Homo sapiens: one gene and its partners. The protein of the gene in region 7 purifies or fractionates together with the protein of the main gene of each other region. This does not show direct contact. Each region holds a gene or a part of one and is shown on either strand. Other genes may lie near its edges. The genes, in order: TOR1AIP2, LIMA1, ZZEF1, SCML1, RNH1, MAIP1 and BRD1.

The links.
Region 1: the proteins of BRD1 (region 7) and TOR1AIP2 purify together in Homo sapiens (affinity purification with mass spectrometry, with the first as the bait; one large-scale study listed by BioGRID). This does not show direct contact.
Region 2: the proteins of BRD1 (region 7) and LIMA1 purify together in Homo sapiens (affinity purification with mass spectrometry; one large-scale study listed by BioGRID and IntAct). This does not show direct contact.
Region 3: the proteins of BRD1 (region 7) and ZZEF1 purify together in Homo sapiens (affinity purification with mass spectrometry; 2 studies listed by BioGRID and IntAct, with this or other methods). This does not show direct contact.
Region 4: the proteins of BRD1 (region 7) and SCML1 purify together in Homo sapiens (affinity purification with mass spectrometry, with the first as the bait; one large-scale study listed by BioGRID). This does not show direct contact.
Region 5: the proteins of BRD1 (region 7) and RNH1 purify together in Homo sapiens (affinity purification with mass spectrometry, with the first as the bait; one large-scale study listed by BioGRID). This does not show direct contact.
Region 6: the proteins of BRD1 (region 7) and MAIP1 purify together in Homo sapiens (affinity purification with mass spectrometry, with the first as the bait; one large-scale study listed by BioGRID). This does not show direct contact.

The regions. Positions count from the first base shown.
Region 1 is NC_000001.11:179,871,304-179,874,803, forward strand, and holds part of TOR1AIP2 (torsin-1A-interacting protein 2), read right to left. Parts: intron 1-3,500. UniProt on the Homo sapiens protein: Required for endoplasmic reticulum integrity. Regulates the distribution of TOR1A between the endoplasmic reticulum and the nuclear envelope as well as induces TOR1A, TOR1B and TOR3A ATPase activity.
Region 2 is NC_000012.12:50,179,021-50,182,520, forward strand, and holds part of LIMA1 (LIM domain and actin-binding protein 1), read right to left. Parts: intron 3,018-3,500; coding exon 2,884-3,017; intron 1-2,883. UniProt on the Homo sapiens protein: Actin-binding protein involved in actin cytoskeleton regulation and dynamics. Increases the number and size of actin stress fibers and inhibits membrane ruffling. Inhibits actin filament depolymerization.
Region 3 is NC_000017.11:4,136,531-4,140,030, forward strand, and holds part of ZZEF1 (zinc finger ZZ-type and EF-hand domain-containing protein 1), read right to left. Parts: intron 1-3,500. UniProt on the Homo sapiens protein: Histone H3 reader which may act as a transcriptional coactivator for KLF6 and KLF9 transcription factors.
Region 4 is NC_000023.11:17,750,993-17,754,492, reverse strand, and holds part of SCML1 (sex comb on midleg-like protein 1), read right to left. Parts: intron 2,679-3,500; coding exon 2,527-2,678; intron 1,236-2,526; coding exon 1,101-1,235; 3' UTR 1-1,100. UniProt on the Homo sapiens protein: Putative Polycomb group (PcG) protein. PcG proteins act by forming multiprotein complexes, which are required to maintain the transcriptionally repressive state of homeotic genes throughout development.
Region 5 is NC_000011.10:500,743-504,242, forward strand, and holds part of RNH1 (ribonuclease inhibitor), read right to left. Parts: intron 1,508-3,500; 5' UTR 1,421-1,507; coding exon 1,320-1,420; intron 1-1,319. UniProt on the Homo sapiens protein: Ribonuclease inhibitor which inhibits RNASE1, RNASE2 and angiogenin (ANG). May play a role in redox homeostasis. Required to inhibit the cytotoxic tRNA ribonuclease activity of ANG in the cytoplasm in absence of stress.
Region 6 is NC_000002.12:199,958,582-199,961,599, reverse strand, and holds part of MAIP1 (m-AAA protease-interacting protein 1, mitochondrial isoform 1 precursor), read right to left. Parts: intron 2,333-3,018; coding exon 2,261-2,332; intron 1,847-2,260; coding exon 1,720-1,846; intron 1-1,719. UniProt on the Homo sapiens protein: Promotes sorting of SMDT1/EMRE in mitochondria by ensuring its maturation.
Region 7 is NC_000022.11:49,772,783-49,775,873, forward strand, and holds the end of BRD1 (bromodomain-containing protein 1), read right to left. Parts: intron 2,964-3,091; coding exon 2,809-2,963; intron 1,635-2,808; coding exon 1,451-1,634; 3' UTR 501-1,450; downstream 1-500. UniProt on the Homo sapiens protein: Scaffold subunit of various histone acetyltransferase (HAT) complexes, such as the MOZ/MORF and HBO1 complexes, that acts as a regulator of hematopoiesis.

The DNA of each region.
Region 1 (3,500 bases), on a different chromosome or scaffold from region 7:
TAAATTTAAGATCCTTCCTGAAACTTTATTAAAAGAAAATTTAGAAAAGAAAATAGTACTTTCACACCAAAATAGAAAATGTAGTTCTATTTAATCCACTGAAATTTACATCAACTAACCATGGCAACTTTTTAATTAACTTCTCTAAATAGTCTATCTTGTTCTTTGCTATTTCCTGAATGTATGTTAGTAAGTTCAAATCTGCCTTCAATAGATAAAAATTCCCTTATTCTTTTTTGTGGTAGCATAATAATTAAGTTTCAGACTGAGTCTGGATTGGAATGACTTTTCCAGGCAATTTATCCCTTAGACTTCAGCCTCAACCAATTCCTCATATGATACATAAAATCAAGATAGGCACATAGAAAAAGTATAAATGCTTTAAACTCTCTTGAATTCCCATTTTAAATATTTTCTTCTAGGGGGTACTACAGTCAAGGCTAATCAATAATCATAACTTTTTTTGTATGAGATGGTTTCTCCAATAAGTTTCATACACAAAGTGAAATCTTAAGAGTTTCCTATTTCACAACTACCTTAGATAATGAGAGATTAAGGAGTATGAAAAAAGGAATCATTCTTCTTTTTGAATTCATATAATCTAAAATAATTTTTTGTTGAAAATAAAATGCTCCTGGAAAAAAGTCAACTTGTTTTGTGAGAAACTACTTTTAATTTGGCAATCTTGAGATCACTGAGAGAAGGCATATGGATGACAATCTTCAGTACTATTTAGTACACACACTGTTCCCTCTTTAGAACAGAGAAGCCAAATAAAAAATATTACCCAAGGTTAGAAAATAGCTGCAGAATGTTCTCCTCTCTCTTGCCCCAGGAACTGACAAACGAAACAGGTGTGTATGCATTGCTACCATACTTTTTGAGGGGCATGGCCATAAAGGAGAACAACTGGTTTGGAAACCTACTGGTACATTTCTATCTATGTTGCTCTAATGCTCCAAAAGCCCATGGTCCAAATTCTGTCTACAATTTCACTTCAAAACACCAGCAGCCAAACCTTTAAGGCTAATACACAACTTTCAACAGTCAGATCTGGTGCCAAGCTTAGGTATTTCTATAACTTGTGCTAGCTATTTATTGTCTGTCTAAAACTAAATTTCTAAGTCTTGCCCACTCCTCTGTACCATATCCACTGTCATAATATCCCAGCATTATTATTTTCACAATTTTTCGTTTCTCTGTATTTTCACTAACTGGTGACTTATTCTAGATTTTTGAAAGAAGTTTGAAAAAGTACTAGCCTCGGAACAAAAAGCACTCTACTTCCTTAGGGAATTGTTTTTTACACAGGAATTGAATGCCTGGCGCAGATCAAATTCTACAGATATTTTCTGAGTGCAGAAAGCCTTCCTTTCCTACTTACCCTTTTTCATACTCCCTCCCAACTCCTTTGACTTGTATCTCTAGTTTCGGTTGACCACGTAGAGGTATTAAGCTATGCACGAAGGATCTAAGAGTTTGCTAAGATTTCTGACAGTGGGTGGCACAACTGACTGCCAGGTTTAGTTCAACTTCCCTAATCACTTTTAGTATCTACTTCAAGTCAACATATTTTTATTAAACTTTTTATTTTGAACTAATTTTAGACTTACAGAAAAGTTGCAAAAATAGCACACAGTTCCATTATATCCTTCATCTAGCATCTTACATAATTAAAGCATAGTTATCGAAAACAAGAAATCAACATTGGCACAATTCAATTAACTAGAGGCCATATTCAGATTTCACGATTTCTTTTAGTTGTTATTTTTCCTTAGTGTCTAGTCTATGACAGTTCCTCAGTCTTTACCTGTCATTTGTGACCCTTTCTTGTCTTTGTGACCTTGACACTTTTGAAGAATACTGGTCAGTTATTTTGGGTTCGGTGTTTTTTGTTTTTAAAAATAGACACGTGGTCTTGCTATGTTGCCTAGGCTGGTCTCGAACTCCTGGGCTCAAGCGATCCTCTTGCCTTGGCTTCCCAAAATGCTGGGATTACAGACATGAGCCTCTGCACCTGACCTGGCCAGTTATTTTGTAGAATGTTCCTCAGTTTAGAGTTTTACAATATTTTATCATGATTAGAAAGATAAAAAGATTATGCATTTTTGGCAAGAATAACAAACGTCACAGAAATGCCGCTGTGTCCTTCTCACTGCCTCTTTGGGTTCATGATGTCCTTGTCTCATTACTGGTGATGTTAACCTTGATCACTTTGTTAACATAGTACCTCCACTGTCGGATTACTATTTTTTCTTTGTAGTTAATAATTATCCTGGGAGAGATACTTTGAGACTATGTAAATATTCTGATTTTCCTCTAACTGGATTTTGTCTGCAACAACTACTATGGTACTGTTTCCCTAATGGTGGTTTTGTATTTCCTTCTTTCCTTCTATGTTTATTAAATGGAATTCTTCTGTTAGAGTTGTCCCTTCTCCCCTACTTATTTATTCACTCAGCAATATCAGTATGAACTCATTTTATTTTATGGGTTAAAGTCCAATACTATCATTATTCATTTTATTGCTCAAATTGTTCCAACCTGGATACCAGGAACTCCTTCAAGTTGGCTCTTGGGTCCTTTCGACAAGGTCCCTAACTTTTTGTAGCATTTCCTTACTTTCAAGCACCATAAGATTTTTCAGGCTCATCTTGTATTTTCTCTGCTCCCGCACTAAATCAGCCACTTCTCTAAAAAGTCCTAGTTCCTTTAAAAACCAAGATCTGAATGCTCAGTGCTACTGGGGTATAACTATCAAGTCAACAATATGGACAACAAGTGTTTGTTTCCTTACTATATTAAACTCACTAGCTGGGAATCACTAGCATTACCTGGGAGCTTGCTAAAAGTACAAATTCAGGCCCCAACCTAGACCCACTAGACCAGAATCTCTGAGAGCCTCCTACAGGAATTTATGTTTTAACAGATTTGCCAGATGACTCTGGTGTTCACTATAAAGTAGCTGGGTGTGGCAGTGTGTGCCTGCAGTCTCAGTTATTTGGGAGACTGAGGTGGGAGGATCGCTTGAGCTCAGGAGTTCAAGTTTGCAGTAAGCCATGATAGTGCCACTATACTCCAGCCTGGGCAACACAGCAAGTCCTTGTCTCAAAAGAAAAAGAAAAGAAAAAATAGTTATAAAGTACCTTTATACAGTACTTCAAAATATACTGTAGTCAGGTATGGTGGCTCATGCCTATAATCCCAGCCTTTTAGGAGGTTCAGGCAGGAGAGGACTGCTTGAGCCCAACGGTTCAGAGACCAGCCTAGGCAACATATCGAGACCTTGTTCATACAAAAAATACAAAAATTAGTCAGGTATGGTGGTGTGTGCCTGTAGTCTCAGCTACTTGGAAGGCTGAGGTAGGAGGATCACTTGAGACTGGGAGGTCAAGGATGCAGTGAGCCGTGATTGTGCCACTGCACTCCAGCCTGGATAAGAGAGAGAGATCCTATCTCAAAAAAGAAACAAACAAAAAACTGTAAATACTGTTACTTTT
Region 2 (3,500 bases), on a different chromosome or scaffold from region 7:
GCTGGAGTGCAGTTGCACAATCTTGGCTCACTGCAACCTCCGCCTCCCAAGTTTAAGCAATTCTCCTGCCTCAGCCTCCTGAGTAGCTGGGATTACAGGAGTGCGCCACCACGCCTGGCTAATTTTTGTATTGTTTTGTTTTGTTAGAGTCTCGCTCTGTCGCCAGGCTGGAGTGCAGTGGCATGATCTCAGCTCACTGCAACCTCTGCCTCCTGGGTTCAAGCGATTCTCCTACCTCAGCCTCCTGAGTAGTTGGGACTACAGGTGTGTGCCACCATGCACGGCAAATTTTTGTATTTTTAGTAGAGACGGGGTTTCACCATGTTGGCCAGGATAGTCTCGATCTCTTGACCTCGTGATCTGCCCGCCTCGGCCTCCCAAAGGGCTGGGATTACAGGCGTGAGCCACCACGCCCAGCCATTTTTGTTTTTTTTTGAGACAGAGTCTCGCTCTGTCACCCAGGCTGGAGTGCAGTGACACGATCTCAGCTCACTGCAAGCTCCGCCTCCCAGGTTCACGCCATTCTCCTGCCTCAGCCTCCCGAGTAGCTGGGACTACAGGCACTCGCCACCACACCTGACTAATATTTTGTATTTTTAGTAGAGACGGGGTTTCACCTTGTTAGCCAGGATGGTCTCAATCTCCTGACCTCGTGATCTGCCCACCTCGGCCTCCCAAAGTGCTGGGATTACAGGCATGAGCAACTGCACCCAGCCATTTTTTGTTGTTTTTTTTTTTGAGTGGAGGTCTTGCTCTGTCACCCAGGCTGGAGTGCAATGGTATGATCATAGCTCACTGCAGCCTTGACCTCCAGGGCTCAAGTGATCCTCCAGCCTCAGTCTCAGCCTCCCCAAATTTTTCATAGAGATGGGATCTCCGGCCAGGTGCAGTCCCAGCACTTTGGGAGGCCGAGGTGGGCAGATCACTTGAGGTCAGAAGTTTGAGACCAGCCTGACCAACATGGTGAAACCCCATCTCTACTAAGAAATACAAAAATTGGCCAGGCGTGGTTGCTCACACCTGTAATCCCAGCACTTTGGGAGGCCGAGGAGGGCAGACTGACTGAGGTCAGGAGTTCAAGACCAGCGTGGCTAACATGGTGAAACCTCATCTCTATGAAAAATACAAAAATTAGCCAGGCATGTTGCACACGCCTGTAGTCCCAACCACTCGGGAGGCTGAGGCAGGAGAATTGCTTGAACCTGGGAGGTGGAGGTTGCAGTGAGCTGACATCATCCCACTGCACTCCAGCCTGGGCGACAGAGCAAGACTCCATCTCCGGAAAAAAAAAAAAAAAGAAAGAAATTAGCTGGGCGTGGTGGTGCCCGCCTGTAATCCCAGCTACTCAGGAGACTGAGGCATGAGAATCGCTTGAACCTGGGAGACAAAGGTTGCAGTGAGCCAGGATCACACCACTGCACTCCAGCCTGGGCAACAGAGTGAGACTCCATCTCAAAAAGAAAAACCAGATGGGGTCTCTCTATGTTACCCAGGCTAGTCTTGAACTTCTGGCATCAAGTGATCCTCCTACCTGGGCACTCCCAAAATGCTAGGATTACAGGTGTGATCCTTATATCCACACCTAGATATAAGCTTGATTAATAGAAGAATGGTGAGGAGTTGACAGGAGGTAGTTTTTCCCTAATGTCAGTCCTAGACAAGCCTTTAGGAGATTTGGTGTCTCTTGCAGGATGATAAGTTTTATCTTTTTAAAGTTTTTTCCCTTAAGTTACGAACCATTCTGAAGAGTGACAAATGTTAAAGGGGGTATAAAACGGCAGCACTTCCACAAAAGAAATAAGGTGCTTTAAGCCAGGCACAGTGGCTCACACCTATAATCTCAGCACTTTGGGAGGCCGAGGCGGGTGGATCACGAGGTCAGGAGATCAAGACCATCCTGGCTAACATGGTGAAACCCCTTCTCTACTAAAAATACAAAAAATTAGCTGGGTGTGGTGGCGGGCGCCTGTAGTCCCAGCTACTTGGGAGGCTGAGGCAGGAGAATCGCTTGAACTCAGGAGGTAGAGGTTGCAGTGAGCTGAGATCACGCCACTGCACTCCACCCTGGGCAACAGAGTGAGACTCTGTATCCAAAAAAAAAAAAAAAAAAAAAGGTGCTTTGGAGAAAAAAATTAACACAGTGGGCAGCAGAAGAACTAATGAGTGGAAGTGACTGAGGTACACTTTGGCTGCATGTTTGGAGAAGCTGTCTAGCTAGAGCTATCTAATAGCTAGAAATGTCACACAGATGCCAAAACATCTTTCAAGAGTATTTTAGGAAGGATTGCTCAGAAAGGAAAGCTGGAGAAAGTGACATCTTGGTTACTTCCTTCTGTAAGACTCTATGATTAAAATGAGTTAATTTGGAATGTTTCCCCGATTTGTCACATTTATATTTGCACTTTGAGTTACTTGGAAGAAATGATATGTAACAACTATTTTCTCAGAAATAAAGTGAGGCAACATAGAGAAAAAGACATGCTCTCCAGGGGCTATTATTATTGCCATTATTATCATTTATACAGTGGTTAAGACAAGTAAGGGCTTAAACAAGTAACCTCTTGAGATTTCTTAACTTTGTGATTCTGTGATACCAAGGGAAAACATTCTATTAAATTAGGTCACAGGGGGGTTTACCTGCAACTCATATTATTTAAGCTTCGGTCCTAACATGTAAATTAACATATCAATACACCAAGAAGTTCCAAACACCATCATTATTTGGTATGAAAGACTTGTCACTAAATGATGCTTTTTACTTTATTCAAGAGCCTTCAACAGAATATCATTAGCACAGTAGCTTTTAGCACCAGTGCTCTAAAAGCCAAAGACTCCCTCTAGAGTTCCAGTTATAGACAGATGGCTTGTTTTGGGCTGACTTACCTGAGTTTGTTGTTGCAATAGGAGCAACGGAAGCAGCTGATGTGAAACACCTGCTGGTTGGCCAAGAGACGCTCCATTGGATAGACTGTCTTCTGACATTCCACGCAGGTCTCTCTTGCAGGTGCCTGAAACTTCTAGGAAAAACAAAAAGACAACTTTAGCATGGGCAGCGATGAGTTAGCACTGTCTTGAGATGGACCCTAGAATTTACTTTGTCTAAGGGCTCCCTTAGCTGGTCAGTCAATTCTCATGGAGCACTAAACCTGCTACAATTCTATCAGCTGACTCTTTAAAGCCAAGAGGCTCTCTTGATATTCCCTTCCCAAACTGTGTGGCTGCTCTAAATGTAGCAGCCACCAAGGATAGGTGGAGCTACGTCTGGATTACAAAGAATGGCTTAGACAAGTCACGACCCACATAAAAAATGTTAGGAGCAGGGGATGGGGGAAGGGGTCGGGGGGGGGAGTGCAGGGATTAGGAGAAAATGTTATCACACACAGAAGAAAGAAGTTTGATTCAAGTGCCAAGTAAACACAAGACAGATTCTAAAGGGGATAAATTTCAAGGAGAGGAAGAGCATTTGGCTTTGGGAATTAGGAAAGACATTTCAGTAAAGC
Region 3 (3,500 bases), on a different chromosome or scaffold from region 7:
GAACTAGAACTTGCTCACAAGCAGGCTGGCTCGAGGCCCAGTTCCCAAGCTCAGTCTGAAGAACAGCAGAATGAGCAGACTCATAACACGGCAAACCCGCTGATGCCATTACAGGCTAATTACACACCCGTCCAGGTTGCTATGAAAGGGGTCCCTTTTCGGGGGCAGAGAGGGGGCAGCTTGCAGGCAATGAGTACCAAGGTCCCAGCTGGTTCAGACTGTAGGCTAGGTGCTAAAGGATCATTCCCAAAACGTGCCATGCCCTCTCACTCCAGTATATCTGCATATGCTGTGCCTTTCATACGGCAAATCCCTTCCTTCCTTTGCCAGGCGAATTCTTCCAGCCTCTCAAGCCTTGTTGTGATGAAGCCTTTCTCAAACTCCATGCTGCTGGTAACTGCTTCTCTGTGGTCCCTGAAACTGGAGTGGGCTTAGGATGGAGCAGGGAGCAGACAGGAGGAGAAGGAGAGCAAAGGACAAAATTCCCACATACATGGGAAACGGGACCATAAAGTGGCTGCTTAAAGAGCACTGGGAGACAAGGGTAGAAGGTATAAGAGTGTAAAGGCTGCTCCACCATTCAGATGTGATTCTGAAGGCAATGGGGAGCCACTGAAGTTTCTAAAGCAAGGCAGTACCATGGTGAGGTGGTATTTTGGAAATCAGGGAGAGACAAAAGAGCTGTGGCCCTTCCTCCATAGCTCTCCTAGGTCATGAATTTCTCCAAAGAAACCAATACCATTAACTCCCCCATAGCAAAACACACAAAGCCAAAGTAAGCAAAAATAATCTCCACTCGGCCAGGTGCGATGGCTCATGCCTGTAATCCCAGCACTTTGGGAGGCCGAGGTGGGCGGATCACAAGGTCAGGAGATCGAGACCATCCTGGCTAACACGGTGAAACCCCGTCTCTTACTAAAAAACACAAAAAATTAGCCGGGCGTGGTGGCAGGCGCCTGTAGTCCCAGCTACTCAGGAGGCTGAGGCAGGAGAATGGTGTGAACCTGGGAGGCGGAGCTTGCAGTGAGCCAAGATTGTGCCACTGCACTCCAGCCTGGGCAACAGAGACTCTGTCTCAAAATAATAATAATAATAATCTCCACTCACCAAGGATCTTTCCTGTACTGCCTCATCACCATCCACAGCCAGCCATCCCTTACCAAAGACCTCCTGTGTACAATGGTAGTGCAGGCAGGTGGCTGGCGGCCTCACAGCCTAGTTGCACAGCAAGGCCAGACAGTATGCTCTAAGTGCCAAAGGATCTGTACAGAACAGGTAACAGGAGCCTCAGCTGTAGGGCTGAAAACACCATTATGGAGACACTATCTGAATCATGCCACAGAAGATGTGGTGCTGACCAGGTGACAGTGCCAAGGTGGGGAATCTTCAAGAACTGATAGCAAGGTCCATACACAGGACAAAGGAGGTGTCCCACTAGCCAGCACAGGGCTCATGCGGGGGTAGGGGGAAGATAAATTAGGTAAGGGAGTTAGGAACAAAGCAGGCATCCCACTAGCTAGCACAGGGCTAGTGCAGGTGGGGGAAAGGTAAATTAGCTGAGAGAGTTAGGCTGATGTGTGGGCTTCAACCGATTCAGACAAATACATATTTGGTCCCTTGGGTAGTGGAGAGCTGAGGGCTCCCGGCTGAAGGCAAGAAAAGCTGGCAGCCTGCTGTTGCTTTATGGTGCACACACACAGCTCTTACAGTCAATAGTCTTAAAAGGGCAGATAATCACATCTGCAGATTCCTACGGCACAGTTCCTGGGCTCAAAGCCATTCTAAATTAGTTGATTAATACTTTTCACATAATAATATGAAGACGAGCACAGGGCTTTTCTACAAACTTCCTGTAAACCCGAAAGTGACTAAGAACCTTTTAAAGTTTTCACAAAAATCATATTTAACCGTTTCCTTCAATGTCAAGAAATATTAAAAGGTTACAGACTGAATATAAAATATGAGGTTTGAGTGTGTGTGGACTACAACTTCTACAGTCTCCCAAAGCACCTGGGCACTGGCAACCACCCAGGACTGTGCTAAGACGATGAACAGAGATGAATCAAAAAGGCCCTTCCCTTAGAGCTTACCACCCCACGAATTTCACAAAGTAGGCACCAAAACTATGTGGCAAATTAATAAAACACAACCTATTCATATGAAATTTCACTTTAGGGCCATCTGTTATCCTGTACTCAGCACGTTTTTCTGCCCTAGAAGATTTTCTAGAATCATACTCTAAGAGCATAAATATCTAATCTATAACCTCTGATGTGAAATAAGAACTTAATTTTAATTCTATTTCCCCTCTACATGGCAGTTAATTAAATATTGCTCCTTGTGAGCAAACTGAGAGAGTCCCTTCTCCCTGGACCACACCTACCATGAGAAAAGGTGTGTTGTACTATAAAATGATAATGTTTCAGACTTTGGTCCATGGTCCAACTCCAAGAACTTCTTTATAACACCTCCTCAAGTAACTGAGGTCACAGGAATGTGAAAGCAAGACAGCTGCGTGGACACCAATGGCAGCTAAGTTAGGAAGCCAAAGAAGAAACATGTAACACTTGGAAACTCTCAGCATTATAATAAACCATGCGCACCTTCTCCCTGGACCACACCTACCATGAGAAAAGGTGTGTTGTACTATAAAATGATAATGTTTCAGACTTTGGTCCATGGTCCAACTCCAAGAACTTCTTTATAACACCTCCTCAAATAACTGAGGTCACAGGAATGTGAAAGCAAGACAGCTGCGTGGACACCAATGGCAGCGTAAGTTGGGAAGCCAAAGAAGAAACATGTAACACTTGGAAACTCTCAGCATTATAATAAACCATGCGCACCCGTGGCTATCTGTTTTACCATGTTAGCTCTTATAAAAACGAATGACGGAAACAACTTGTCATTTTAGTTGCTACTATAAAGACATTACTTCACAAGCCCTTCATCTTGCAGTAAAATACAGCAGTATATTCTCAAAAGCTTAGACGTAGATTAACAACGCAGAATTAACTGTGTAAGTATGCACAAAAGTATATACTTATTCAAGTCTAAGGATAGACATTCTTAAAGCACAGAATCAAATGCATGGCTAAATCTTATCTTCTTTGGCTAGTCCTAACTTACTAGTTCTTACAGACAGAGCAGCCATCACAAGATTATCATGAGAGACGGTGGCCACTGTGAGATTATCACAATCAGGTTTTTAAACCTTGGCTAAGCCTCACTCACAGAACTGTATGACCTAGCTATGTGAATCAAAGACTGCCAAATATAACTCAATGTTTTCTCTCCCCTTCCTCAATAATTAAGCCCTGAGTTTTAGCTGAATATATGGCCACGGAAAAAGAATCTTTCCCAGCCTGTCCTGCAGGTAACTGCGGCCATGTGACTGAATTTTGGCCTGTGGGATGTAAGCTATGCCCGTAAGAGAGTGGGCATGGCTTCTTCCTTCTCCTTCCCTTTTCCCTTTCTTGCTTGTTGGAATGTGGAAAATG
Region 4 (3,500 bases), on a different chromosome or scaffold from region 7:
TAATTAGAAACATTGCATAGGACGGAGAACTTCCCTGTATGGAAACCAATCTACAGATTGTTTCTTGTCCTCTAAAAAGTAAGTTGAGAGGTACTAATGATGGCAAATAATCCATTTATATTTTACAAAATAAAACATTTCACTAATATATGGCTCATCCTACCTCTGTGGCAATACAAAATGCCATTTCAAATTTTTTTTAAAAAGATTGTGTGAATACTTCGGGTGAGAATAAAATATAAAATACTATCTATATAAAGAATAAACACATAAAATACAGTTATGCCTTTTAAAAGTTTGGACAGACGTATCTTCATAGAGAGATGCAAACAATGAAAGTGTAGTTATAGGTCCAAACTTAGCCAAAATATGACAGTTTTAATATAATAGTTTGTTTGAAAAAAAGTAGTCAGACTTCATCCAAACCACCCTTGCGGTACAATATTTCTTGCATAAAATAACCATTCTATCTATCCTATAGTTTATCTTAAAACTGTTAAGAGCACATAATAAAAGTTTATATGCTTATTTTTTACTCTAAATCTGAATAAATAAAACATATAGAGAAATAATAGCAGAAAGGAAAATAATTTATATGGCTATTCTCTTTCTGGAAACTTGTAGAATACTGCAACATCAGACAGATAAAATACTCCAGAAAGAGATATATATGGGTACACCTTTAAATTCTCTTCTGAGGAATAATTCCCATAGATTCAATCATAGGAGTTGTCAACCCTGATAATACCTCTCTTAGCTGTTTTGGTTCTCTGTATCGAGATGAACCAGAATCAAAGGGTTTTTTTTTTTTTCTGTTTCTTGCATGAAATATATTTGTAAACAATATAATAAAAGTAATTTTTAAAGACCTATAAAGAATGAATTTTCTATTGGACTATTCTAATACTATCTAGCAGTTTAAATGGTTTTTAAAGAAGTAGACTGGACTATAACATAGTTCTACAATTCTAGCTATAATATATTTTGAGAGATACTTTCTACAAAACAAAAACGACTAAAGGGCAGAAAAATGATTCCACACTAAGAAGGCATTGGTGCCTCTAGAAGTTGGCCCAATCTAAATTTGCACAAGGATTTTTTCAATTTTCAAAGCATTTTCCTTGTTTAAGTCGGTCAATGTAGTAGCATAGCTTCACAGCCGTTCCCAGCTTCACCCCCAAGTGCTTCAGCAACACGTCACTCGTGAGTAGGAGCAGAGCCTTCCCGTCAATTTCCTATGGAGAGAAGAAACTTAACGATAATTAATAATGCTTCCATATTTTCATCAGAATGGTTAGTTCTTTATGAGAACATGTAAAGCAAACTAGAGAGCAGCTCATTGCAGATGTATATTCTCTGAATATGCGTCTACTTTATGAAAACTATTAAAAATATAACTTGTACAGTGAAGCACCGTTTGGTAATGTATAAACTCATTTCAAGTTCTGAGAAAAAGGAAATTTAACATAATATCTTAAAAAATAAACTGTGTCAAACTTAATTTTAAATATATACTGTATGTTGAATAAAATACTACACATCCATGACAAAATAGTAAAGACTATGAATAGTAAAAATGAATTTCAGATGTTCATTAACTTTCTGAGAAGGGCTGGGAAGATGAGTACGTCAACATCAGTGCAAACTGTAAATGTCTATACAATGTTGTCTTTATGATGAATGCCAATTAGTTGTCTGAAACTAATTAGATGCTAAAACTAATCACCAATTTTCTTACTATATTAAAAATCAGATATGTGGCTACTAATTTTGTTAGGACACACTGTGAAAATATCTGAATAAATAAAACATAGTCACAAAGCATTCTCCTAAAATTCCTTATCTTAATTGATCAACTTATGCTGCTGAAGCATATGATTTGGTTTTATATGTTCCAGTTAAAAAATAAAATTTTATTTACTCATTTAACACTATCTGAAAAGGTCTGAAATCCCTTATAGTACAACCTTTGTTTGGCACCTTCTATACTTTTTCTACTAAGTAAAACTCAAAATTAAAGAAACTAGAACTTACAAAACTTCGGCCTAGGATATTACTTTGTAAATGGTCTGATAATAGCAAGAGGGTATTAGCATTACAAATCATCAATAATCGAGGCAAATGGAATCAGTTGTTGAATCACTGGTTATATAAAACGAAGGCCACCCTGTTATAGCTTGTGGTTACCCCCTCCTCCTCGTGGTCCTGGTGCCCAGCTGGGAGCAGATAGGGGGAGGATCTTTGTATCTGTCATTACAAAGGGGAGGTACACCTGAGTGGCCATGCTGAATCATCATGTCTTAAGAAGCTGAGGCAGTTTGTATTTTAGGCACTTCTACACCCATTTAAAGAACAGACCATTAGCCTACCATTTAAGGCTAACCTTGGGCAAAATAAGCTTTCTCATATATGGAAAAATCAGCTAATAGGGTTCTCCCACCATTCACACAGTATCCAACTGAAAGACCTGCACAGAGGTCATTCAAAGGCATTACAGCAGGAAAACAGGATCAAAAGATACATTACATGGCTTCTGAAGAGGTCGACAAGAGGGCATAATGCAAGAGGATCTGTTTGTTTTAGAAATAGGACCACTGCTTCCACCGACCAGGTTGAAGGGTGCTTAGTGATGCTTCCTTCCTCTATGTAACCGTCATTTTCAACTGGTGACCTTGTAACTTCAATGGAGAGGGGGAAAAGAAAAAAAAGACAAATCACACTCGACCTGATCATTATCCTGAAAGAAGAGATGTTAGGTAAGGAGGAATGCTCTCTTTGTTGGAACCTTCTGTGATGTTCCTAGCAAGGAGTCAAGACTCCAACTGTAAAATCTAGTGAAAGCCTATATAAAGATGATGTGGGGATGCCTACACAAGAGTGTCCCATCTGACCTCCCCTAAATAGCAAAAGCTGGTTCAGAAGTTACATTAAAGTTTCAAAGATCACAAAACAGACTAAGTAAACCAAGTCTTCTTTGGCCACAGGCAAATATGGCAAAAGATCTGTCACTTGGGTAAAATTAGGTTAATCTAACCTAACCTATGACTCTCTTCAAGTATTTCAAGGAATTTCTCTCTTAATCTATCTAGATTAGGTTAATTTTACTAGCAAAATATAATGGAAATTCTCCAAATTTACAGTTTTATAATTGCTTAAATTTGTTCCTTTTAATCAATGAATCTCAATAACAACCCCATTATCTTTAAGAACCAAATTAGTACTTTTATCAAATCTTCCCCACGTATTCAATAAGGTTATTTTTAGTATCGCTTTACTTTTTAGATTCCTGTCTCTCGTGGCTTAAGTGCTAATGTGCATTGTGAAGAAAACAAGATTATTTTCTGCTGAACTAGGTCAGAAGTAACTAACATTTTATTTAATTCCTCTTTCATGTTTAATTGCATAGTAATAGAGATTTTGGTCAAAGGTTTATATGTTTAAAAAATAACTGAGATATGAGACAGTTTAACTGCTCATACTTCAGAAAGTTTTAGCTATGC
Region 5 (3,500 bases), on a different chromosome or scaffold from region 7:
CAGTGGGCCCAGAAGACAGCAAGGCAAGTCACACAAGACATTTCAGAAATGAAACAAAAAGGAGGAACTGTTCCATGAAAGTTTTGTTTAAGATGCTCGCACGTGGCCAGGCGCGGTGGCTCACGCCTGTAATCCCAGCACTTTGGGAGGCCGAGGCAGGCAGATCACCTGAGGTCGGGAGTTCAAGACCAACCTGACCAACATGGAGAAACCCCGTCTTTACTAAAAATACAAAAGTAGCCGGGCGTGGTGGCGCATGCCCATAATCCCAGCTACTCGGGAGGCTGAGGCAGGAGGATCACTTGAGCCCAGGAGGTTGAGGCCGCATAAGCCATGAGGGAGCCACTCCAGCCTGGGTGACAGAGCAATGCCCTGTCTCTAAAAATAAAAAGAATTTAAAGTATCTCTCGAAGGCACTGATCAGTCACAGGAGGAAAGGCAGTGGCGTCACAGTGGAGAGGGTGGCAGACGGCGCCTGTGACAGGACGCTCCTGGCAGGCCCCACGGCATCTCCCTGCATTCCTGCCAAAACTGTAGGACTTCAACCACAAGAAACCACCAGACAAGCCCCAACAGAGGACGTCCTGCAGGAGCCTGGCCAGACCCTCAGACCACCAAGAACCCAGAGAGACGAGGGGACAGTCACAGACGGGAGAGGGCTAAGGAGACAGAGGGCTGAGGGCCACGCAATCCTGGACCAGTGAGGAAGACGAAAAGGGCAGGGCGGAAAAGCAGACCCTGCCTGGAGGTGCTGGGCCAGAGCTAGCGTCCGCAGGTACACAGGACCACCTCACCAGGGAGCCCCGTCCGGTCCTCGTAACTCCTCCGCAAACCTGACACTACTTGAAATCACCAGGTAAAAAGAGAAAAGATGCGGCCCACCCAGGCACTCGTGTCCTGCTTGTGAAGCTGCTGGGTTTGTGAGGACCTCGAGGGCCGAGGACTCCCAGCCCCCAGCTTGGCAGGGACAAGCAGCGCCCCATGGAGGCTCACGGAGGGGACCCAAGCTGTGTCCTGCCCTCGTGTCTCCAAGGGAGGGAGAGGAGCTGAGACACCGGAGCCAGAGACCCACTGGCCAGTGGCCGCCCACCTCGGCCCGCCCACCTCAGCCCATGCTGCATGAGCCTGGAATGGGTTTTACATTCCTAAATTGTCAAAAAGAAACACAAGAATCACATCTCATGCACGTGGTAGCTGCACAGAATTCATACTTCATGTCCACAAACAAGGCGTTCCAGAGCAATGCACCCTTCAGAGGGAGCCGCCACCCGCCAGCCTGCCCCACCAGCACCCCAAGGCCACCCCGAGAGCAAGCGTACCTGACCACTTGGCACTGCTGGAGCAGAGGGAGGAGCTCGGCCCATCTAGCGTCGCTCAGCTCCTCACACTGGATGTCCAGGCTCTGGATGTCCAGGCTCATGGTGGAGGTGAAGAGTGGCCTGGGTGGGAGGCAGAGGGAAGAGGACGTCTTGGCCGAATCCCCTCACAGTTTCACAGGCCGGAGATTCTGCAAACAGGACCCACAGGGCTGATGTTTCAGGAGGAGCCGCAGCCTCTCCCTGGGCAAACACTTCCTCTTCAGCACCCTCCCCACCTTTGTCTCTGGAGCAGACATCAGGGGTGGGGCAGGGGGCAGGGACCAGCACCCACCCCCAGAAAGGCCACCATGGGCAGCAGAGCTTGGGTAATGCAGATGCCAGCCCATCTCCTGGCTATCACCACCCAGCCTCTGTGGGCACCTCCTCCTGCCCCACAGAGGGCGGGACAGCAGCAGCCCGGGAAGCCCCTGCCTCTCATTTGCTTGGGCAAGGACAGGGTAGGGTGGGGTGGTCTGTGAGCCTGGAGGCCCCAGCAGGGGAGCAAGGGGGTCTGTGGGCTTGACCTGTGTCTCACCCTCAGGACAGGCAGACTGTGCGGGCCAGGCAGGCTGCCCACAAAGCCAGAGACCTCCCAGGATGCCAGGATCCTGGACCCGGCCACAGTGTCCGAAGCAAGACAGAGCAGGGGGGCGGCCACTTGGGGTGTCAGCTTCCATGGCCCCCTTCTGGGGTTGGGGACTCTGCACCAGGCTACAGCACATCCCCTGCCCCACGGCACACTAGCCCAGAGGCTGGGCTACCAGGCAAGCTGGGTGGGTCAGCCTGGGATGGGCACAGCTGCTACACCCTGAAGCCTCCCCAGGCACAGGCCCTGAATATGGAAGGAGGTTCCTGAGGCCCTGAGAGCACAGCTCAGGTACCCGCCAGGGGCCTGGGGAAAGTGGTCAGGCAGAGACAGCCACCCCAAACCTTGGTTGGTGGATACATTCCCTGAGCACCTGCCAAGCACTGGCCTGGGGACTACAGCAGGGCAGGAACCTGGAGAGGAGGCTTGGATGGCCAGGAAGGCTCCCTGGAAGCAGCAGCACTGATGCCACAATGCGGGGAGGGGTGGGTGGGGTGGGGAGAGGGCTCTCATCCAGAAGCCCCAGAAAGTTGGCAGGATCCACTTGGGGAAATGATGCAACCCCAGCTGCCCTTCAGAAAGACGGCCAACAGGACCGCTTGAGAGGCTCCTGGTGCCCTGACACCCCCAGCTTCCTGAGTCTGTGTGCCTGGCACTCCTCTCCCCGGGGCTGCTTCAGAGGCGGCTGGTCCACTCTGCATGAGTGGAGGCAAGAGGCCCCTGGTACCAACTGGGAGGAAAGACGCAAGGCTGGGCTCGGGTCCACACGCCTGGGCGCCCGGCCTGCAAGGACAGTGGCAAAGGGTGGTGACATCCCACGGCCCCACATGGAGGAACTGAATCCAACCGACCCGAAGCACGTGAGCAAAACCGACCAGGGTGTGGTCACCCAAATTCTGACTCCAGAATCTAGTCATCAGGAGGCACTGTGGGCGGGAGGGCGGGTGGAAGGAGAGCCTCAGGGGGCTGCCCAGGGTGCACACGCTCCCCAAATCCAGCCTGACACTCCTGTGTCCTCTGCAGCCAGATGAAAGGTGGCCCCAGGGTGTCCTCCTCCTGGGAAAGCTTGGTGGGAGCTCAGGGTGGCCAGTGCTCCCGTGACCATCTGCAACTAGCGCTGCGGGAGTAGCCCCGTCCCTACCCCTCAGGCTTGGCCAGACCCTGTTGTATCCCAGAAAGGCCCTTCTGAATCTCTGTGGGTCACGGATCCCACTGAGGACCCCATGAAAATGCGGGAGTAAACGCCCTTCTCTGTGACTGGAGAAGTCCCTGGCTCCCTACACAGCCAAAGCTAAAAGCACATTCAGGAACCCACTACCACCAGCTGGCAGCCTGCTTTGGTTGAGGCAGGGATCTGAACAGAGGCCCTAACGGTCCCTTATCCGGAGACCAGACTTTCTCAACCTTACGGAGGGAGGTCTCCGCAGCACCCAAGGCCTGGGCCCCACCCTGGGGAGCCACATGGGAGGGGCCGTCTGGAGGCCAATTCAGGTCCTTATGTTCCGACGTGACGGGGGCGCGGGGCCACCCTCTAGGGAGACACGGGCCACGCTCAG
Region 6 (3,018 bases), on a different chromosome or scaffold from region 7:
TAGGGTTTATGGCATACTTGCCCTCTTCTCTGTATCTCAGTAATAAAACTACTACTTAACTGAGCACGTACTTTACTAAGTATACTACATGGATTATTTTCAATTAGTGGCATTTTCTTTTTCTTTCTCTTTTTTTGACACAGAGTCTCACTCTGTCACCCGGGCTGGGGTGCAGTGGCGCAGTATCGGCTCACTGCAACTTCCGCCTCCCAGGCTCAAGCGATCCTCCCACCTCAGCCTCCTAAGTAGATGGGACCACAGGCACGCACCACCATGCCCGGCTATTTTTTCATATTTTCAGTAGAGACTGGGTCTTGCCATGTTGCCCAGGCTGGTCTTGAACTCTTGAGCTCAAGTGATCCACCTGCCTCAGCCTCCCAAAATGCTAGGATTACAAGTGTGAGCCACCACATCTGGCCAGGCATTTTCTAAGATTATAATAATCTCCTGACAGATACCTGTTGTCAAACCAAAAATGAGGAGAAAAAAAATATTTTTTGCTGCTCAGTAACTATCTTAACTTCAACTGCCAGAAAGAGTAAAGGCTTCCTATTCTACCCAATTCACCTTACTGTGCCTGGTGATTCTGACAAACTCCTGATGCAAAAATTAGTTAGTGACCATGGTGCTGAGATGCAATTTGAAATATTAGGGAAGCGGAAAATATTTATCACTAAAAATATCTTTACAAATATTTCAAAATAATGTGTGCATGAAAAATTTTATCATCACTAAGAGTCTTTTTCTTCCATCTTGGGAAGTGTATAAGCAGAGGCTCCATTTCCTGTGTGGCTGGCACATAATACATATGCAAATAGAGTCATCCCTCAAAATCCACGGAGGATTGGTTCCAGGACCCCCCTGTGGATACCAAAATCCACAGATGCTCAAGTCCTTTATATAAAATGGTGTAGTATTTGCATAACACACATCCTCCAGTATACTTTAAATCATCTCTAGATTATTTATAATACCTAACACAATGTAAATGCTAATGTAAATAGTTGTTATACTGTATTATTGAGGAATAATGACAAGAAAAAAACTGCACATGTTCAAGTACAGATGCAACTATTTTTTTTTAATATTTTTTACCCTAGATTGGTTAAATCTGTGGATGCGAAACCCCCAGATACAGAGGGCCAACTTTGTATGTATCAGGAACAAACAGTGAATTATCAGGAATGCTATAGGGAAAATGTATGCCTCAGACAAGAAGAACCAGATAACCACTAAATTTCCTACCAACTTTTTTCATTATTCTCAAATAGATCCAATTTGGGAGTTCTGCAGTTAACCTTTTCAAATTGTCTTTAGCTGACAATATCTAATTTGATTTTCTTTTACCCCTCATTCCTTCCATATAAAGTGCAGCTTTAAAATACTCAATTGTTTCCTTCAAGTTAGGAAATCTGAAACATAAATATTTTCTATTTGAGACGTGGGAGCCACTCAAACTATTTTCATCAATGTAAGTGATGATGTTCTCTACTGTGAATAAAATAGTAGCAGAAAAAAGTTCTAGATAGAAAGGCTTAAGAAATGATGACCATATCTCAACTCTTTCAGAAGTAGGTCTTTAAAGAATGGATATAACATTTTCTTTGAAGTTCTATAAATACTTGTCCTGACAAAACTCTACTATTTTGTGATTATCCACTAGTTTAGCTTATCTGGACAATTATGGATCATTTCAAGTTGACTATGCTCTGGTATTACCTTTCTCATCATAGTAAATGGAGATGTCTCCTGTTGATGTAAATACAATTTCATCTATGTTAGCAGCAAGGGCATTTTTATGGTTGTCAGGTAGTGAAGTAACCTTTTCTTTCAATGCATGTAGCACCTAAGTTTGAAAAAAGCAAGCCATTAGTTCACTGATACAATTTTTGAAAACTTTCAAAAAGTGATCTTTATCATGGAATACATTTTTCCAAACCTATTTTTAAATTTACTACCGTATTTACTCATCCTCAAAAGCAAGGCTGAAATGTATCTCATTATTCAAGTAGGTAATTCCTAACAGAACATTCCATATAAGAGCAATTGGAAGACATCATGATTACTTCATTATGCCTTAAGTGGCAGGAGTTATTCCATGCTTTTATATGACCCAAAGTACCCATAAGAACAGATACACAGACTCTACTTTGGATGCTGGCACACACACTATTTTTAAGCATAAATAAGGAAAATGTGCATCATTCTATTGCAAGAGAATAGCATTTATTTTTAAAGCAAAATGTAAAATATACTTTACCTCTTTGGCCACAAGTTCTTCCAACAGATCAAATTTACACTGTGACAGCAACTTGGATACATGAGCAAAAGCCTTGAAAAAAATATTAAGGGAAGTGTGGGGATTATTATTTCAAAATACCATACCATGTTCATATTTAAATGGCTAAGTGTAATACAGACTATTTTATGGTAATAGTGATAAACAACATCAAATATTAATTTATCAAGGCATGACTCTTGGTTGACTTTTCATATATGGCCTTCCCACATATATAGCAGTAAGTGACTTGACCTTTAATTCTGGATCCACTCTCAGGACCGGGAAATGATAGTGTGTGGTGTACAATCTAGATGTCTCAATAAAAATCCTCCTTTATATTTCTTTTTAAAATGATGAAGTAAACAATCATTTGGCAGTTATATGACCTACCTCTTAATCATGCATAGATAGCAGTTGGAAAGGAGAACAGTCGAGACTGCATTGGGAGTCTGGAAATCTGGGCTGTAGTCTGAATCTCAGTATGGGAGATAATGTAGGTTTGGGAAAGTGGGAGAGAAGGTCATTAGTTTATGTGGTCTAAAACAGTAGATCCTAACTTTGAAGTATGAAATTCCATTTTCAAGGAGGGAAAAACCCAACTGCAATTCTCCTCACTGCTAGCAATGAGAAAGCAAACTGTGAGTTAAGATCCTACCTGTCTTCAGGGAACTTTCAGTCTACATGGGAAAAGGACAAGTAAACTGACAAGTTGAAGAATTTTGACAGGGATAAGAACA
Region 7 (3,091 bases):
GAGAAGGGGTGCAAACTGCACCCGCCATTAGCTGGGCTTCTCGGTGGTAGCCCTGAGTGCTCCACGGCCTGTCCCCACCTGGCTCCTGCACCCGCTTCCTTTCTGCGTGGGCTTCCTTTCTGCGTGGGCGGTGAGTGATCCTGGGGGCCACCAGCTGCTCGTGGTGGGGAGGGGCCTGCCGGGCGGGGCTGGCTGTGGGAAGGAGAGCCACGACAGATAGGAAGCACCTGCCAGATGCAGGACAGCAACTATCTAAGGAAGACTTGATTTCCAAGTTTCTATGGAGATGTTACAAACGGTGTAGGCTTAAAAAAAGCATTTAAAACTTTTATGTAACTGAAGTTTTAAAATAAAAATATGATCAGGTGAAATAACAAATAATGCCATCCCATGACAGTTTTCAAGATAAAGGCGTGTCCCCGCCCCCTGCAGCCAGCACCCCACCCGTCCTTGGGGCTCACCTAGCCGTCTAGGGCTGTAGGAATAAAATGGCCACACCGTCCAAATCTTGACTTTATTTTTAATATAAAAAATGCAAATTTGGAAACCCACCCTACTTTCCCCAACATAATGCTTTACCTCTTAAAAATAAAAATAAAGTACTAATTCTATATACATCACAGGTACCATACAAAAATGTATCCAAAGTTTCTATTGCTACCAAAGTGTTCTAAATTAAAACAAGTTACAGAAAGCCCCTCATTGTAAACAAAAGATTACAAGTTATAAAATCAAAGTACACACAGGCCAGAGTCATTTATACAATGCAATGCATTCTGCTCCCAAGCCAAGTTGAATTTTTATGTGCCTGTATAAAAATGCATATCAATATACCTTTGCAAATGTATTTTTCATTATAAAGCAAATGAATACACTTTCTACAATAAATAATCCGCTGGGAGGCACACCTGCGGGGTTTGAGGTGGGCGGGACGACGGGAGCGGGGACACACCCACCGGCGGTCACGGGCAGCGGAGTGTTTTTGGTGATCTGCAAGTGATGTACACAGCATAACTTTATTCTCCCCTCTTTCCACAAAGTACCATTCAAAATAATGTCATTTTCTTTCTTAAAATACACATTTGTCATTGTAAATTTACATCCCGTCTTATTAAATAAGTGGTACTCTGTGTAAAGAGCATGATTTACAAAATTATTAAACATTCAAAAGTCTTTAAGAAAAAGCTACATATCAAAGAAAGTGACGCCAGCAGCACGGCCTGGGGACGTGCGACAGACGCACTGGGCTGCCCGGACGTGCCCACCCCACTCACAGCGCCCAGACGGAGATGGGTTCCTAGAAAACTTGGAAATAAAACCTCCCCCCTCCCCGGGGAAAAAGAATTAAAGAGCTATAACTAAAAATCAGAATAAGTTAAGTTTTGAACAATATACAAACATGTACAGCTTATCAACACTATGGACAAGACCCGCGCTGGCGGCCGGGCCGTCAGTCAATGTCACTGAGGTCGCTGGTCGGCTCCCCGTGGACGCGGCTCAGGTGGTTCATGGCGCGGTCAAAAGCGATCCGCACGGCCTTCCGGATGCTGGAATTCCTCCCTTCCATCATCTTTAACTTGTCTATAGTTTCGTCAATACCAAGGGGAACCATTTTGGACTTAGGAAGCCACTGCCTTTTTAAAAGGAAAAACAAGCGGAAAATCATTGCTTGCACATGGTATTTCAGCAGGCTCCATGTAATCATCTAACAAATTCACTGCCCTCCGATAGAAAGGGGCCCTGCTCAGCACCACCAAGACAGCTGGGCCCCGTGCAGGGACAGGCCCGAGGCCAGGAGTGCACCCCTCCCTTCCCCTCCCCGACTTGGGGATACGGGGAGCTAAGTAAGGCATAAAAACCATCACCTCCTCCTCCACCTCCAAAACGTTTCCCAGTGCCTGCTTAGTGACAAGACATGCACACACCAAGCCCAGAGTCAGGGTGGGCCCTGGAGCAGAGGCCGGTGGTTGGGGAGACCCCATCAAAGGGGCCCTCGGATGGACAAGGTGTGGGCCTCGCTCAAGGCCTGACAAGAAGCAGTGGCCACGTGGCCAAAGAGGCAGAGGTCGAGGCAAGGAAGAGAAAGACGGTAGGGATGCCTGTGCTGCCAGTCCTGCTCCAGGCACACCATAGGCAGGTGGCCCCGAGCCCCTGCGCCAGGTCCCAAGTGCAGCCAGCTCCACGGGGAACCAGGAAGCACCTGCCCGGGCCACGTGCGCAGGGCACAGCCGGGGCCACAGCTCCTCCCAGAGGCATGTGCTGCCAGCGTGTCCTGCACAGAGGGATCTTGGGGTCTAAACCCTGGCACATGAGGGTCCCAGACGCTCTGGGGAAAAGCAGCTCAGGGCACAGGGGGAGCCTCCTGTGATGGGGTGGATGTCTGAGCAGAGCTGGATGATGCTGGGACAGAAGGCTCTAAGAACAGGGCCAGAGGCCAGGCCCGGGCAGGGGCCATGTCCTGCAGTACAGGGGTCCGGGAGCACAGCAGAGGGACCCCCAACACTGGAGCGGACACATGGGTAAGGAGTAGGGAAGAGACAGTCCAGACCAATGGGGCTCAGGCGAGAGGGAGAGGAAGCCATCGGGCAGAGACAGACCCGGTGCTCAGTGCCCGTCCCACAGTCCCGGCGAGGGGGCTGGGCAGTGCCCTTCTCCACCAGGCAAACAGCGGAGCACTCACCTCCGACTTTAGCTGTGCCAGGGCCCAGCAGACAAAGACGCTGCTCACCACAGGGACACTCAGGTCACCGAGCCCACGGCCCCCAACCACCCCAGCCGGTCCCCGGAGTCTAAGGCCTCTCAACTCACCAACTTCTCTTATTATCAAAAAAGAGAACGAGGAACAGCTTCTCATCAGACTTGGTCTGCATGTGCTCCCCAATCTTCAGCACGTCCAGGGGTGGGGCCGGGATGGTGACGCCGTTGTGGTGGCCAGGCACACGGGGCATCTTGGGGTCGATGATCTGCACGAGAAGGACCCGCTGAGGTCATTGTGAGGCTCACACCCATAAACAACCCCACCTGTCACTGGCACCCCCCCCCGCCTCCCCACCCCAGCTGTGTGAGCCTCCTCAGACCACCCCCACGCCCC